Regions from separate parts of the Homo sapiens genome. Here regions 1 and 3 are each linked to region 2. The links come from fine-mapping of genetic effects on gene expression. A gene starts in region 2. Each other region holds a variant in brackets. All regions are shown on one strand. Distances are from middle to middle. Region 1 overlaps TMF1 (TATA element modulatory factor 1). Region 2 holds the start of EOGT (EGF domain specific O-linked N-acetylglucosamine transferase). Region 3 overlaps EOGT (EGF domain specific O-linked N-acetylglucosamine transferase).

What was found. PIP is the estimated chance that this variant, and not a neighbour inherited with it, causes the effect. A credible set is the group of variants that fine-mapping cannot tell apart.
Region 1: its variant is the best candidate, but not a certain one, in a credible set for the expression of EOGT in whole blood (INTERVAL, PIP 0.62).
Region 3: its variant is the best candidate, but not a certain one, in a credible set for the expression of EOGT in monocytes after LPS (Quach 2016, PIP 0.70).

Annotation. Positions count from the first base shown.
Region 1 is chr3:69,033,336-69,036,097 of GRCh38, reverse strand. It overlaps TMF1 (TATA element modulatory factor 1), which reads left to right. Exons shown (of 17, transcript NM_007114.3): 9 at 983-1,075; 10 at 2,394-2,550. Among named protein-coding and RNA genes, the nearest start is that of MIR3136, 14 kb to the left of the region's middle. The variant C/G (reference allele first, on the strand shown) is at 1,187.
Region 2 is chr3:69,012,453-69,015,214 of GRCh38, reverse strand. EOGT (EGF domain specific O-linked N-acetylglucosamine transferase) reads left to right here and starts at 1,531. Exons shown (of 18, transcript NM_001278689.2): 1 at 1,531-1,641; 2 at 2,416-2,700. EOGT-DT (EOGT divergent transcript) reads right to left here and starts at 2,095. Exons shown (of 1, transcript NR_185971.1): 1 at 1-2,095. RefSeq lists silencers at 1,304-1,603, 1,664-2,213.
Region 3 is chr3:68,990,301-68,993,062 of GRCh38, reverse strand. All of the region lies in intron 10 of EOGT (EGF domain specific O-linked N-acetylglucosamine transferase), which reads left to right. Among named protein-coding and RNA genes, the nearest start is that of EOGT-DT, 21 kb to the left of the region's middle. The variant C/T (reference allele first, on the strand shown) is at 1,027.

The DNA.
Region 1 (2,762 bases), 21 kb before region 2:
TTCTTATTGATGGATATTTGGGTTATTTTCAGTATTTTGCTATTATAAGTCATGCCATGGTCCATATATCCTTTGTGTTTCTGCTGGGATAGATAAAATATCAGTAATTTAAATTTAAAATACGTTAGAATAATAATAATACAGAAAAATTGGGGGAATGGGAGATAGAGCATATATGAGTTACCATGCATAAATCCATCACTTTTTCCAAGTACTGTCAGTTTTGTGTGTTAGTGTTTCATTCTATTCCCATATATGTGTTTTTCATAATTGATGTCTTACGTGTTATTTTATAGTTTTTCCATTTAATAGTATATTAGAAATTTTTTTTACATGTTTTATACATTTATTGTAATTTTTAATGGTTATATTCATGTTGTATCGACATTTGCAACTATAGATTACTAGTGATGGAGATTTAGAATATTTCCAGTTTTGTTTTTGCTAGCCTATTTAATACTGTAGGGAATATCCCTGTGTATTTACGTATCTGCTTTCTTAGAGTGAATTCCCAAGACTAGGATGGCCCGGTGAAAGGATGTGAGAAGTTTGATGATTCTTTAAACATATTATAACGTTTTCCAAAAAGGCTATGGTAGTTTATAATGTATGCTCCTGCATATGAGTGGAGCCCCCAGCTTTTATAATCCGTATAGCACCTATCACTTTCTGTGTGATGTGGCAAATATTTATAGACGCACTGTCTTTTCTCCAATATTGTATGGTAATGGCTATGCCTTATACATATTTGTTTGCGTTTCTTTGCCTTAACAGAATGCTTTTCTAAGTAAACATTGAATATACATACAGTTTTAGAATTGCTTGATGAATGAGAGATGTGATAATCATATGTAAAAGTTCATTGGAGAGTATGAAATAGTATACATGAACAATGTTGACACAACACAAAATATGTAGTTAGTGGGAAGTTATAGATAATACTGTACCATTGTTTGTGAATGTATTGTTTCTCCTCCTACAGGTGGGGGACCTTAGGCTTGCATTGCAGCGTACAGAACAAGCGGCTGCCAGAAAGGAGGATTATTTACGCCATGAGATCGGTGAACTTCAGCAGGTACTGTCACAGGTTTCCAAAACACAAATCCAAGAAGTATGTGTTTTTCTAGAAATAAAAGAATTCCTCAGTGGGATAGTGTTCATGGAATTGAGAGGATTACTGTCACAC[C/G]TAGCATTTGCTGAATTTTTGTGGCTTGTGTGAATAAATCAGAGTGGGCACCTTAAAAATTATACAAGGAAATTCCTTATTTTGTTTTATAGAAAATAATGTTATGATAGATTTGTTATATGTATTCAGTATTGCTTTTCCATTTGTAATCGCTTATTAATGATTGTCAGTCTTTGATTACTGTGGGACAGGTAATAGTTCCCGGTTTCTATGCCTCTGTTAATTTTCAGTCATTTATAACATGCAGAGGAAAAGGGAGAGAAAATACAATTTAGGTTGATTTTTCAGTTTTTATAAATACTTAGAAATATTTGGATGAGGAGGTAACTACTAAGAGGTTTGGATGAACTCTTTTTTAACCTTCAGGTAATTGAAGACTATCTTAGAAACGCTTTTTAAAGAAGCACTTATTTATTTATTTATTTAATTTCTTTATTTTGAGACAGAGTCTTGCTCTGTTGCCCAGGCAGGAGTGCAGTGGCACAATCTTGGCTCACTGCACCCTCTGCCTCCTGGGTTCAAGCGATTCTCCTGCCTCAGCCTCCCAAGTAGCTGGGATTACAGGCGTGCACCACCATGCCCAGCTAATTTTTGTATTTTTAGTAGAGATGAGGTTTCACCATGTTGGCCAGGCTGGTCTTGAACTCCTGACTTCAGGTGATCCACCCACCTCAGCCTCCCAAAGTGCTGGGATTACACACATGAGCCACCGTGCCTGGCCAAAGAAGTACTTATTTAGATACTGTATTACACAATCTAACTCTCTTGGAAGGATTGAACAGTTAGAAAAATAATTAAGGGCTGGGCATGGTGGTTCATGCCTATAATCCCAATGCTTTGGGAGGCTGAGGCAGTCAGATTGCCTGCTCAGGAGTTCGAGGCCAGCCTGAGCAACATGATGAAACCTCGTCTCTACAAAAAAATACAAAAATTAGCCAGGTGTGGTGGCGTGTACCTGTAGTCCCAGCTGGGAGGATCGCTTGAGCCTAGGAGGTTGAGGCTACAGTGAGCCACGATTGTGCCACTGCACTCCAGCCTGGGTGACAGAGCGGGACCCCGTTTCTAAAATTAATAATAATAATTAAAAAGCAAATTATTTTCTCTTGGAAAAATAATTTTCCAGGAACCTCTCAAAGTTCAGGTTTGCTAGTGTTTTTAATGTTTTTATTGCTGTCATTGGTAATGACTTCAGAATTTCATGATTCAGAGACTCCAGGAAGCAGAGAATCGAAACCAGGAACTGAGTCAAAGTGTTTCATCAACAACAAGACCATTGCTTCGACAAATAGAAAATTTGCAAGCAACCCTGGGATCCCAGACATCGTCGTGGGAGAAATTAGAGAAGAATCTTTCTGATAGGCTTGGTAACTGCTTTAGTTTTTATGCTCGATGCAGAAGCTCTTCCATCTTGTTTATAGAATTAGAATAATGGTATGAAATTGAAATTCATTTGATCTGATAGTTACATTTTGTGTCTAATATGTAGATTTTTACATTTTCTCTTTTTCTACATGTATTTTTAATACCTTTATTATGTCTCTTTCAAACCATTTTTTCCCATTACACAATGGTATCA
Region 2 (2,762 bases):
AAAAAAAGAAAGTAAAGGAAGAAAAGAATGGCTACTCCATAGACAAAGCAGCCCTGAGTGCTGCTGGTTGCCCATTTTTATGGTTATTTCTTGATGATATGCTAAACAGGTGGATTATTCATGCCTCCCCTTTTAAGACCATATAGGGTAACTTCCTGACATTGCCATGGCATTCGTAAACTGTCATGGCGCTGATAGGAGTATAGTAGTAAGGACTACCAGAGGTCTCTTTCATGGCCATCTTGGTTTTGGTGGGATTTAGCCGGCTTATTTACTGCAACCTGTTTTATCAACAAGGTCTTTATGACCTGTATCTTGTGCCGACTTCCTATCTCATTCTGCGACTTAGAATGCTTTAACGGCCTGGGAATGCAGCCCAGTAGGTTTCAGCCTCATTTTACTCAGCTCCTATTTAAGATGGAGTTGCTCCGGTTCACATGCCTCTTGACAGTTCCCTTAGAGGCAAAATCTTTTCAATAAAAAGAATAAATTAATACTGTAAAGTGCTTTAAAACAATGTTTGGCACATGTTAAACACCACATGTTCTTGCTGTTATTATTTGAAAAAAATTCCAGGTAAGATTCCTAATTTAGCAGGTCACTAATGGAACTTGTAACAATTCTTAAACAACATTACTTTTAAAAATTACGTAAAAAGCATGTAAGCCTTTGGAAACAAACTTGTTTCCTTATGATCATATTATTTAACTTCTGGTGACTATATTCATTTGAGCATGTTTATTTTGAAGTCATCACCTTCATATAATCAGTTCAACTTTAGTCACTATTTAATGATCAACTCTACTGTGCTGTAGATGGAATACTAGGCCTGGGGGAGCTTAGAGGAAAAGACAGTGGGGGATGGGAGTTCAAATAATTATAAGCAGTAATAAAGTAAATTAACAAAACCATAAAAATTAAACTCCACAGAGTAGCATTTGAACTTGATGAGTTTACGGATAGGTAAAACTATACTGCTTTTAAAATGTGTGTGGACTCCAAAGTATCCTCACCATCACAAAGTGTATTCGGTGAACGATGTTCAGTCCCCAAATTTGGAAGTTAGGGCGGCAACTTCTGCTTGAAATAAGACAAAAGTAAAAATCCACCTCAGTGCAACGCAGAAGACACGAAGAGTCAGGTTTTCTACCCACCCCGTCCTAACATCCTCTGAGCGCTTTAACGCTCTCGCTCAAGGAGGCGCGGGCTGCTGCGATGGAGATGGGCGTCCGGCGCCGGCACGTGCCGTCGGTCTTTCCGGCCCTGGTGAGGGAGCTGGCGGACTCGCGCGAACGTTCGCGGGAGAACGCCAGGAAGGGCAGATGGTTCCTCGACTCTGAGCCCCTCCCTGCTGCGCTCGCCGGGTCGAGGCCGCTCGCCGGGCTGAAGCCGCTCCGAGCGTCGGGCCCCGCGCCCTGGCCCTCCTGGGTGTAGTCCCGGTCCTGCCTCTGCGGGGCCCGAGCCCGCCCACGGCGCCGGCTGGCCAAGGTGTCCCAGCTGCTCCTTGGCGCCCCCTGGCCCAGCTCCCGCGCCCGAGGTTTCCGGTGAGCGGCAGTAGCCGGTTATGACGACTCCCTCCTCTGGAACAGCCGCCGTCTCCTCCGCCTCCTCCTCGGTAGTTCACGGCTGCCCCGGCTCCAGGTGGGACTCCCCCGCAATCTGCGGAGCCTTCCCCCGCTCTCCTTCCCGCCGCCGCAGCGCTCTGCGCTGTTCTTGCCCGGGTGGTAGCCGCTCCCGGCGCGGCTTCCCGGAGGGCTATAGCCTACGCACGCACTCCGCCCGCGCCTTCCCATTCCCTGCGGGCCGGGAGGCGGGCGTCGGAAGCCGATCCTGGCCCTCCCCGGCCCCGGGCGCCCGGCCCCTTCCCAGCGCCCGGAGCGCAGGCGGGCCCCGGGCCCTAGCCGCGTTGACCAGGTTTCCAGCCGGGGCGGAGCCGCTCCCCGGGGCCCCTCCCAGGCGCGCTGGGGACCCGGGGCGCCGCGGTGCACGGTGGCGGGCGGCCCCGGGAGATCACCGACCCCGAAGCAATCCCTGGCGGCGCCCGGGGTCCGGAACCCCAGCGCGGCGTCTCAGCCGCGGCGGGGTGCTCGCCACTGACCCCTCAGCCCTTGGCCGGGACTGACGTTCAAGCGGACAGCTGGGCTCTGCCGGGACTGACGTTCAAGGGGCAGCCGAGCACTTCCTGAGCCCTGCCTGGCACCCGCCGAGAGACTTTTTGGCACAAGTAGGGGCCAGCCGTTGAGGTGTCATTCGGGGTCTCACGTGTTGAACTTTCCATTTGCCCACTGCCGTCTTTAAACTTTTCCAAGCTCTCTCTCTCTGCGACATTGCCCCATTTCGCCCGCTGTGTCAACCCCAGGTTTTGCCTCCTATCCATCATCTTTCAGATGTTTCCCTTTTTTCCTTCCTCATTAGGCCTGTGGAAATCGAATCAAGGGTTTCTGGAGTGGAGTGATTCCAGCTGCTTTGAGCTGAAGGAAAAGTAGCCTGGCCAGTAAAGCGTCCGTGTGCTGGAGGAGTGCAGCCACCCATCCCGGCGGGCCTTGCAGGACGACCGACACCAGGAAGGCTTTGTGCCAGGCCCAGCAGCCACCCCCAGCCGCCTTATGCAAGTGGGTACATGCCCTCGCCAGACGCCAGCTTTCTGATCTGCGTCTTTAGATTTTTTCCATCGCCTAAGCGTTACTTCTCCACTGATCGGTGAGTTTAGTGATGGCCAGAGCTCACTGGAGGACAATGGACTTGGATAACCAAAGGTCAGG
Region 3 (2,762 bases), 22 kb after region 2:
CGGCCGCTTCCCATCACAGGCCTGGAGACCCAGGAGGAAGAAGTGGTTTTGTGGGCTGAGCCCAGGGTCCCCATGCTGTATGCAGCCTAGGGACTTGGTGCCTTGTGTCCTAGCCGCTCCAGCCATGGCTGAAAGGAGCCAATGTACAGCTCAGGCTGTGGCTTCAGAGGGTGGAAGCCCCAAGCCTTGGCAGCTTCTATGTGGTGTTGAGCCTGCGGTGCACAGAAGTCAAGAATTGAGGTTTGGGAACCTCCACCTAGATTTCAGAAGATGTATGGAAATGCCTAGATGCCCTGGCAGAAGTTTGCTGCAGGGGCGGGGCTCTCATGAAGAACCTCTGCTAAGGCAGTGTGGAAGGGAAATGTGGGGTTGGAGCCCCCAAACAGAGTCCTTAGTGGGGTGCTGCCTAGTGGAGCTGTGAGAAGAGGGCCATCATCCTCCAGACCCCAGAATGGTAGATCCACTGACAGCTTGAACTGTGCACCTGGAAGAGCCGCAGACACTCAATGCCAGCCCGTGAAAGCAGCCAGAAGGGAGGCTGTACCCTGCAAAACCACAGGGGCAGAGCTGCCCAAGACTGTGGGAACCCACTTCATGCTTCAGTGTAACCTGGATGTGAGACCTGGAGTCAAAGGAGATCATTCTGGAGCTTTAAAGTTTGACTGCCATGCAGGATTTCGGACTTGCATGGGCCCTGTAACCCCTTTGTTTTGGCCAATTTCTCCCATTTGGAACGGCTGTAATTACCCAATACGTGTATCCCCATCGTATCTAGGAAGGAACTAGCTTGCTTTTGTTTTTACAGACTCATAGGTGGAAGGGACTTGCCTTGTCTCAGATGAGACTTTGGACTGTGGACTTTTGGGTTAGTGCTGAAATGAGTTAAGACTTTTGGGGGACTGTTGGGAAGGCATGGTTTGTTTTGAAATGTGGGGACACGAGATTTAGAGAGCCCTGGGCAGAATGATATGGTTTGGCTGTGTCCCCACCAAATTTCAACTTGAATTGCATCTCCCAGAATTCCCA[C/T]ATCTTATGGGAGGGACCCAAGGGGAGGTAATTGAATCATGAGGGCCAGTCTTTCCTATGCTATTCTCGTGATAGTGAATAAGTCTCATGAGATCTGATGGGTTTATCAGGGTTTTCCACTTTTGCTTCTTCCTCATTTTCTCTTGCCGCTGCCATGTAAGAAGTGTCTTTCACCTCCCGCCATGGTTCTGAGGCCTCCCCAGCCATGTGGAACTGTAAGTCCAGTTAAACTTCTTTTTCTTCCCAGTCTCAGGGTATGTCTTTATCAGCAGTGTGAAAACTGGCTAATACAGTCTTGAACTCCTGGCCTCAAGTGATCCTCCCACCTCAGCCTCCCAAAGCACTGGGATTACAGCCATGAGCCTGGCCAATATGTTTATATTCTTATGGAAAATACATTCTCTGTCTCATATTGCCACCTTAGTATTATCTGTGGAATGTCTTTTTAAGTCAGTACCTTTAGGGCTATCCTTGCTTTAGATGTTATGTGGTATTCTGTTTAATGGATGTTTTGGAAGTTGGATGCATGCATCAGTGCATGTATTCATTTCCCACTCCACCCCCCATCACATTTAGTTTTGTTTCCAGTTCTGTGCTATTTACTGAAATGTGACCATAAACACATATGTCCTTTCAATATACCTATATCTTCACATGCTCATCCTAGCATTTCTGTAGGACAGATTCCTATAATTGGAATTTCTAAGTCATAGATTATGTGCATGTTTAAATTTGAGACACACTAAAGGAAATTTTATGTCATCTTGAAGACTATCCAAATATTCTTCAACATGAGTATAGGAAGAAGTGCCTCCTTCCCAAATGGTGGATAATTTGGACTTGGGAAACATGGAAAAGAAGCTTTTGGAGGTGGTTCTTATTCAATAATGTATGACTTCCCTGAGGAAGGATCAGTCAGGATTACTGTATTTTATTATTAAAATTTCCTTTCAAACATATTTTATTTTATCTGAAGTATTTTATCTCAGGAAACCATCTAGAATCACTTCTTTTAATTGCCCTTTATTTATTATTGAGCCAGAACAGGGACATTTCATTTTAGATGGTGTTGAGAAGGGCCTTTATTAGAATGGCATTGGAGGAACATGGAAAGAAGGCTTTTTTTTTTTTTTTTCACATCTAACAGATCTCAATAACTTTGAAATAACTGTAATATGTGCAACATAAAATTTTCAAAATCTGAGAAAAGAATGCTATAAAAAAGAGACATGAACATAATGTATAACTGTAGAGCTTGAATGTAGTGCTACAATGCATATTTCTGATTTCTATTGGCTGAATTTTTCAATCTAAGTGAAACCATTTAAAAATTAATTGATCTTCTTAGCTAATGGAGCTCATAATCAACTACTTTTCAAAAAATAAATCAGGCTGGGTGTGGTTTCTGTAATCTCAGCACTTTAGGAGGCCGTGGTAGGCGGAGCACTTGAGCTCAGGAGTTTGAGACCAGCCTGGCCAATATGGTGAAACCCTGTCTCTATCAAAAGATACAAAAATTAGCCGGGTGTGGTGGCGTGCGCCTGTAATCCCAGCTACTCGGGAGGCTGGGGCAGGAGAATTGCTTGAACTTGGGAGGTGGAGGTTGCAGTGAGCCCAGATCACGACATGGCACTCTAGCCTGGGCAACAGGGTGAGACTCAGTCTCAAAAAAAAAAAAAAAAAAAAAAGCATGTGGTAATTATACTGGAAAGAACTAATTCCTGCTGAAAGGCAGC